Homo sapiens: one gene and its partner. The protein of the gene in region 1 interacts with the protein of each later gene in a pairwise test. Each region holds a gene or a part of one and is shown in the gene's direction. Other genes may lie near its edges.

Region 1 (3,778 bases):
AACATTATCTGTGCAAGCACCATAGAAACATTTGCATATCTGCATAGATCTTACAACTGTACTCTTTACCTCCTTGTGATAAAGCTTTGTCTACCTGCAAACACAGTCAAAGGCTACAGCTGCAAACCAAAGCCAACTCTAACCATGGCCAAGAGCTCAAGGACAGAAGCAGCCACATGCTTTGGTCAGCCTTCTGTAACTTCAATTAGTACAAAGGAACCTTTTCCATGAACTACCTGCTGTTTTCTGATGACCTCTGGGATCTTTTCATTTAGCCCTAAACAAAGAAACAAATATGACAAAAACCACAACTAAAAAATGTTAATTCAGTCACAGAGTAATCTTCTGAGGCCAAAAGTCCATCTAAATGCAATGAAGATTTGCTTTCATTAAAGACAGAGGTGAGGACAAAATCCGCAGTGGAAGTTATGATATGCTAGAAAGCAACAAATGTGGATCACTGACCAAAACGATTATGTACTTGATGCAAATGCAGATTGCATATTGTTATATATATAGTACTTTGTGTTTTTGTTTTCCCTCATTCAGTCAGTTATTTTCAGTGGTGAATACATGTTGTTAGAAGATGTCTTGTATGGTCTTAATCTTTGTTGTGTACTATTTTTTTATAGTCTTAAGTTATAATGAAAAAACAAAAAGTAGGAACCAAACATAAAAGGTCTAGTAAAGCCAAAAATTAATTTCATATTGATTTTAAAGTGATCTAGCTGAGTTTTTACACTGAAAGCAAAGATTATAGCAATTGTAGTCCATGGTATTTATTTTCAGTCAAACCAAAGTTACATATAATTCTGCCTCTGCTTATACGGGATATTAACACTAACAATACACTCCCTTCAAAGACTTGCACAGGCCAAATTGTTGGAATGCTGGTTTTCTTGACAATTCCAAACCCCAAAACTATGATAATGAGTTATGATGTAGTTGAAAATAGCATAGTCAGATGTTTGCTTAAAACCTAGAAACTTAACATGTTGCTTTTCATGTGCTGTGCCAAGTCTTGATAATACTTTTTCCCCCAACCAAGGGACCTCATAACCTGATTATGGTTATTGCTTTACAAACAGTTTTGACAGAAGGTGGCTGCTAGAGCTTAACATACGTTCCCGTTCCATGTGATGGAACCGGTTCTTGCAAACTAAGCTCATCATTGATTCTTTGCTGAAGTCAGCAAATAGAGTTAGAGAGATACCCAGTCATCTATCACACCAAATAAAAGGACATAACGGCTTTCAAAAGGGTTTTCCCACTTACCCAAAAGGCTTTCTGAAAGCTTCTACCTCTGCAAAAAAAAAAAAAGAAAAAAAAAAAAAGAAAAACATTAGAACAATTATGGCAGATTGCATGAAACGTGAGAACGTCACAGTAACTGCTACTTTTCATTATGTTTGTCTTTGGGTCATGATCAACGAACCGGAAGTTTACAATATGGTATTAAAAGAAAGATGGGTATGGTGAAAGATGGTTTTCAGTCATCTAGGATCCTACTGTAAGGATTATCTGAAAGGAAAAATGGGTCTTTCAGGTGCATGTTCAAAAGGCTTTGAGGGACTGGAAGTAACTGCGAGAGTTGTACCATCAGAAGGGTGGCCTAAGACTACAATGCTAAAGTATGCATACCTCAGTTAGAAAACTTTTGAAAGGAAGTCTCAGCCACAGAATGCATATACCTGTAGAGTTTTGCATGGGTTTTATATGAATACAATTTTAAAAAATAGCTGCTTGCACATTATACCAGAAAAACCTCCAAAACTGCAATTGCTTTGAAAATAGATTTTAGGTTTTTTGGAGTTTCCTGAAATGCTTGGTCTGTATTTTGATAATTGTGCATATTATGTAAAAATGTTGGTGGACCCATAAATGACCAGACTTTTTCTAAGAAAAATGTTGCTTTAATGCATTTCATGAATTTTTACTCTTATATCATTGCTTGCTAGTAATAGCAAATCTGCTTTTCTGCATCTGCTTTGCGTAGCTATTGTAAGGCTTTGAACTAATGTATGTATTTATTGCTTGAACTTCTGTGCATACCTTATAAAGCATAATGTCTGACAATTTAAATGGCTCATGTATTCTTGCTTCTATCATAAGCTGATTATGGGGACTATGATCTTTTGTATACAGCAAATTTTAAACTGTAGCACAAACATCTGTTTATGTATTGGTGGAATATACCTGTTTTATTTATCTTTTTTGAGGTAAACTAATTTTTGATACTTTTCATTACTGTGTACTATGTTCATACTTTGAATTCTCTGACGTTAGAAGTCATGGTTGAGAATTGTAACAGCTGTTATTCGTTCTGTATTCATGGCTTTCACTGCTGAATAAAATAAAGGACCAAACCTAGGATTTGAAAGAAAACTGTCTACCTCTAACACCAGGGAGTTATCAGATTTTATTTTACATAGTTTTAGTCTACAAAGACACAATTGCTTAAACCTAGTGGGCTTAAGGCTTATATTCTATGTGGTTGGATTCGTGGCACAGTTGTACTATTTGAAAATCAATTAAAATTTTATGTGAATGTTACAAGTATTTGGTAGAATTACCACTAACTGGGTTTTCTTTAGATAACTCAGATATGGAGAAAATGTCATCAGCATTCTGTGTCTACAGCTGCTTAACTTCATAAGAATGCATTTCTTTGTGATTAGGGAATCGAAGAATAGTCAGCTAGGAATAGAGCTACAGAAGTACACTTACATAAACCATCCTGGACTTTAATGTCCCTGGGCAGATTCAGTCGCAAAATCCAATATGATATTTTGTAAAGTTTTCAAGTTGGACATTTACATTTTTGAGAATTTTGAGACTTCATCTTACACATGCCAGTATTAACACACATTTGGACAATAGCTTTATTAAGTCTATAAAGCTATTGAAAGGAACATGGCTTACCCTTGTTATTTCACTAGTTCAGGTTGCAACGAAAGGTTTTTTTGTCCATGAACACTTGGCATATCTTACTTAGCAAAAAAGAAGGATGTACATTTTACTATAGAATTAATGTATGAACAGTGTGTCACTGCTGTTGGATGTAAAAATGTATATGAAACCATTTCATTCACTTGATTACATTTCTGAAGTATAAATAAAAAAATCTAATTCTTTTTGACCCATTTATAACCAATAGGATTTTATTCTTTCGGAGAGACCATTCTTCCATGCCAGAGCCAAGTCATAAATTTGTATACACATGTCCCACAATTTGTTTAAAATTATTTTCTTAGGGATTTGGGATTCATAAACCAGACCATACTCAAATGTAAAGATGGAGGCTGCTTGTCAAATGCATTCCATTAAAAACTGTCTTCAGGTTCCAAATTGCTTCCCCACACACTTATCTCATGTTTTCGTGTTTTTATTCTGATACAATTTGACATTATAAATTCTGAACATTAAAAAATGCCAGGGGAAAACATGATTACTCTTTTTAACTTTATGACTTTTTTGCTTTATTGTCTTTTTTTGTTTTGCCTCTGAATATCAGTCACACCCACAGCATCCAGCCATGGTTTAGGGGAATGTGTCAGAGATAGGTAAGTAGCTTCCAAGAAAATGCTTTTTAGGATATTAGGGATCTGTTCCAGACCCATATTAGTGGAAAAAAACAGGCAAGATAGGGCCTCAGCATTAGAAAATTTCACTTCCTACTTTAACCTAACTTCCAAATCTCCTCACAATCAAAAGTAAAAGGAAAATGAATCTGTTGAGAATTTTTTAATTTTATGCATAACTTAATATTTTCTGTCAT
Region 2 (3,927 bases), on another chromosome or scaffold:
AAATATTCACACACAGTTTTCTTTCAAATCCAAAAAGTACAAGCTTAGGAAATCCTTTTAGAAAAAAATTATTTCTAAAATCTGTCCTGCCTCTTAGGCACTTCCGTATCCTCAGATGGCCAGCCACTCGTCAGATAGCAAAGTTGTGCAAGACTGAAGCACATCAACTTTGTTTTTCTCCTATTTCATATATTAAAAAATCTGTGATAAATGCTCTGTTACCCTCAGAGTCTGAAAAAATATGTCCCTCCTTTGAGATGCAAATCTGAACTTTGATTAGAAACAGAGTCTGCCTCCTTGACAGCCACAGATAACCTCTCTTAACAAGTTAAAAACAATTTTTAAAGCAGAATGGTGTGTTCTGAGCTTATGAAAAAGTTAATTCATAGGGTTTTTCCTTTTTAGCTCCTAATGGAAAATGCCAGCCCCTCTCATAGGCACAAACTGACCTATTATGCCCTTGTCTCTAAGGGATGGTTGTGCGAGCTGTTACGCTGGAAAGAAGATCCTTCTCCAGAAAACAGAACCCTGTGGGAGAACCTCTCCATGATCCGAAGGTTCCTCAGTCTTCCTCAGCCAGAACGTGATGCCATTTATGAACAGGAGAGCAACGCGGTGCATCACCATGGCGACAGGCCGCCCCACATTATCCATGTTCCAGCAGAGCAGATTCAGGTTCGTTTACTTTGGCCAATTCAGTATAGCAATAAGTAAATAAAGCTTTAAACTTAGCAGGGAAATTAGCGTTTCTCTTCCTCCTGCCAGTCTAACCATAGGCTTTTTAGCAAGAGATAACAATACACTGCCATCTTGCTCAGGGGGATAAAATGAATATTAACATACTTTTTCCAGCGTATGTATCGTGTTCCTCTTTCCTCATCTCCCAGCCACCAAAGCAACAGGAACCCCTTTTTTACACTCGTTTGGCAAATGTGTCTTTGTTGGTATTGGGTTTTGTGTTAAGAGCTTAAAATTTTTGTGTGTTTTTTAAAAATCACAATTTAAAACACCACCTATTTTTTAATTAATACCACAGTGCCCCTGAGGAAAAGAGCAACCGCTGTTGCTGTAAAGGAAGTTTGTAGAATCACAATTTTATACATTGGATTCTGTCCAGAAAGAGGAGGGGAGGGAAGCTTAATTGGAATCTTGCCTTACAGTCCTTGGCCCTTCCTTCACCTTGTATGTAATAGCTGTCTCCCCACACTTTACAGAATGTAGGTTAGGGGTGAGTCATCTCTGTTTGTCTTTCCTTTAGAGCCCCTCTCCCACCACCCTTGGGAAAGGAGAGTCTAGAGGCGTTTTCTTACCAGGCCTGCCGACCCCTGCACCATGGCTCGGTGCTGCTCCTCAGGTGAGCGGGCACAGTTACCTATGCCACCAAGGGACACAGAGAGGGGGTGACCTAAAGACCTGCTCCCCAGGTCAGGATTTTCAAACCTGTAAAGGCCCTACTAACCATGGTCTTGGGCAGAGCTCACTGTGCCAGCAGATGCAGCCTTATGCTTTGTTTGTCATGTCATGGGACTTGTCACCATTCATCTCCTGAAGACACTCTTCTGTGAATTTAGATGGAAAAGTTCTGGGATCAGGTAGTCATTAGCGCTCTTAGGGCCCCAGTTGCTTAGAAAGCGTGTTGTCATTGAACTTGAGTTGTATAGCTTATTTTTGTTAAAGGGGATGATTTTAGCTCTCTTTTAAAGTAAAATGCCACTGCCTTCCAGAGTCCTAAAATTCTACCTCTGTTGAGTCACCTACATTCTGCAATTTTTTTGTATTTCTGTGAAAAATTATATATATGTGTGTGCGTGTGTGTATAGATAGATACGTATAACTAAAAACAGTAATAAAGTTATTTATCTACCAGGATAAAAAAATTCTCAAGTGTGTATTAAAGATAAAACAAGTTGACAAAGAGCTTCCCTTTAGGATATCAAGCACTAAAATAATCGTGAAAGCCTGAAAAACTTACTGTTTAGCAAAAACAAAAAAGAGAACGATATATGTTAATTAATTTAAAAAGTACTTATTCGAAAATATAAATTGTTTTTAATAAAATTGCTTCTTAGGGGTATAAAAGGAAATGCATAGACACGGTATCAGCATTCTAATATTTTGCCACTTAGGTTGATTTACTTTGCTGATAAGAATTATGGATATCGAGTGTACAGTATGTGCATGTGTCACATATTTATGTATAATTGTGTATGGAAATTGTAGCACATATACATATACTAATTATGAAAAAGTGTCTGTATACACTAAATTTAAATCCTAACCACATCTGAGTTTGCTATAGACAAAACAATTCGCTAGCTGTCGTATGGTGGATTGAACCTTTTGAGGTAAGAAAAAAACTTGCAGTGTCAGCCTAGTGCAATTCGGTAAGAAATTGTGTGTGTATTAAATTGGAACTGTCTGATAGAAAATTCACAAGTGTGAGAATATCAGAAATCCTTTAGTCTCATGACAGATAACACTGAATAAGAGCATAAGCTCATCTTCTGTTCTTCCTGGCCATCCAATGAAACGGAGCAGAACACAAATTTCTTTCCCCGCTGCTCTGTAGCTCACCTTTCTGAAATGTCTTTGAAATCCTTTCCTCTCCATCTTCATTTTAAATCTTTGTTAATTATTTACATCATAATTTGATGTGCTGTCTTCGCCTTTGATGCGTATCATTCTAGTGAATTTTATGGCTCACATTTTCAGAGCACTGAGTTTTCACTTCCTCTGCTGATCTCTGATAAGTAAGTGCAGTAGCCCCCCAAAGCTGTCTTAATTCATCCCTTCCTAGTCATATCATTTTGATTTTTTTGTAAATGCTGTCGGCCATTTCGCCGGCCTACCTTTTCTTTCTAAATCTTCATCCCTATCAAAGAAGCTATATGTAGGATCCGGGACCACATTTTTCCTGATTGGAGACGGCTTTGTGTGGAACTCCACGATAGCAGAGCTCTGATTGTCTCCTTGTTTCTTTGCAGCAACAGCAGCAGCAACAGCAACAGCAGCAGCAGCAGCAGCAGGCACCGCCGCCTCCACAGCCACAGCAGCAGCCACAGACAGGCCCTCGGCTCCCCCCACGGCAACCCACGGTGGCCTCTCCAGCAGAGTCAGATGAGGAAAACCGACAGAAGACCCGGCCACGAACAAAAATTTCAGTGGAAGCCTTGGGAATCCTCCAGAGTTTCATACAAGACGTGGGCCTGTACCCTGACGAAGAGGCCATCCAGACTCTGTCTGCCCAGCTCGACCTTCCCAAGTACACCATCATCAAGTTCTTTCAGAACCAGCGGTACTATCTCAAGCACCACGGCAAACTGAAGGACAATTCCGGTTTAGAGGTCGATGTGGCAGAATATAAAGAAGAGGAGCTGCTGAAGGATTTGGAAGAGAGTGTCCAAGATAAAAATACTAACACCCTTTTTTCAGTGAAACTAGAAGAAGAGCTGTCAGTGGAAGGAAACACAGACATTAATACTGATTTGAAAGACTGAGATAAAAGTATTTGTTTCGTTCAACAGTGCCACTGGTATTTACTAACAAAATGAAAAGTCCACCTTGTCTTCTCTCAGAAAACCTTTGTTGTTCATTGTTTGGCCAATGAATCTTCAAAAACTTGCACAAACAGAAAAGTTGGAAAAGGATAATACAGACTGCACTAAATGTTTTCCTCTGTTTTACAAACTGCTTGGCAGCCCCAGGTGAAGCATCAAGGATTGTTTGGTATTAAAATTTGTGTTCACGGGATGCACCAAAGTGTGTACCCCGTAAGCATGAAACCAGTGTTTTTTGTTTTTTTTTTAGTTCTTATTCCGGAGCCTCAAACAAGCATTATACCTTCTGTGATTATGATTTCCTCTCCTATAATTATTTCTGTAGCACTCCACACTGATCTTTGGAAACTTGCCCCTTATTTAAAAAAAA

The links.
Region 2: the proteins of FOXP2 (region 1) and SATB1 come close enough for resonance energy transfer, tested with the Homo sapiens proteins (one study listed by BioGRID).

The regions. Positions count from the first base shown.
Region 1 is NC_000007.14:114,690,623-114,694,400, forward strand, and holds the end of FOXP2 (forkhead box protein P2), read left to right. Parts: 3' UTR 1-3,143; downstream 3,144-3,778. UniProt on the Homo sapiens protein: Transcriptional repressor that may play a role in the specification and differentiation of lung epithelium. May also play a role in developing neural, gastrointestinal and cardiovascular tissues.
Region 2 is NC_000003.12:18,348,740-18,352,666, reverse strand, and holds part of SATB1 (DNA-binding protein SATB1), read left to right. Parts: intron 1-471; coding exon 472-675; intron 676-1,258; coding exon of another isoform or gene 1,259-1,354; intron 1,355-2,984; coding exon 2,985-3,497; 3' UTR 3,498-3,927. UniProt on the Homo sapiens protein: Crucial silencing factor contributing to the initiation of X inactivation mediated by Xist RNA that occurs during embryogenesis and in lymphoma.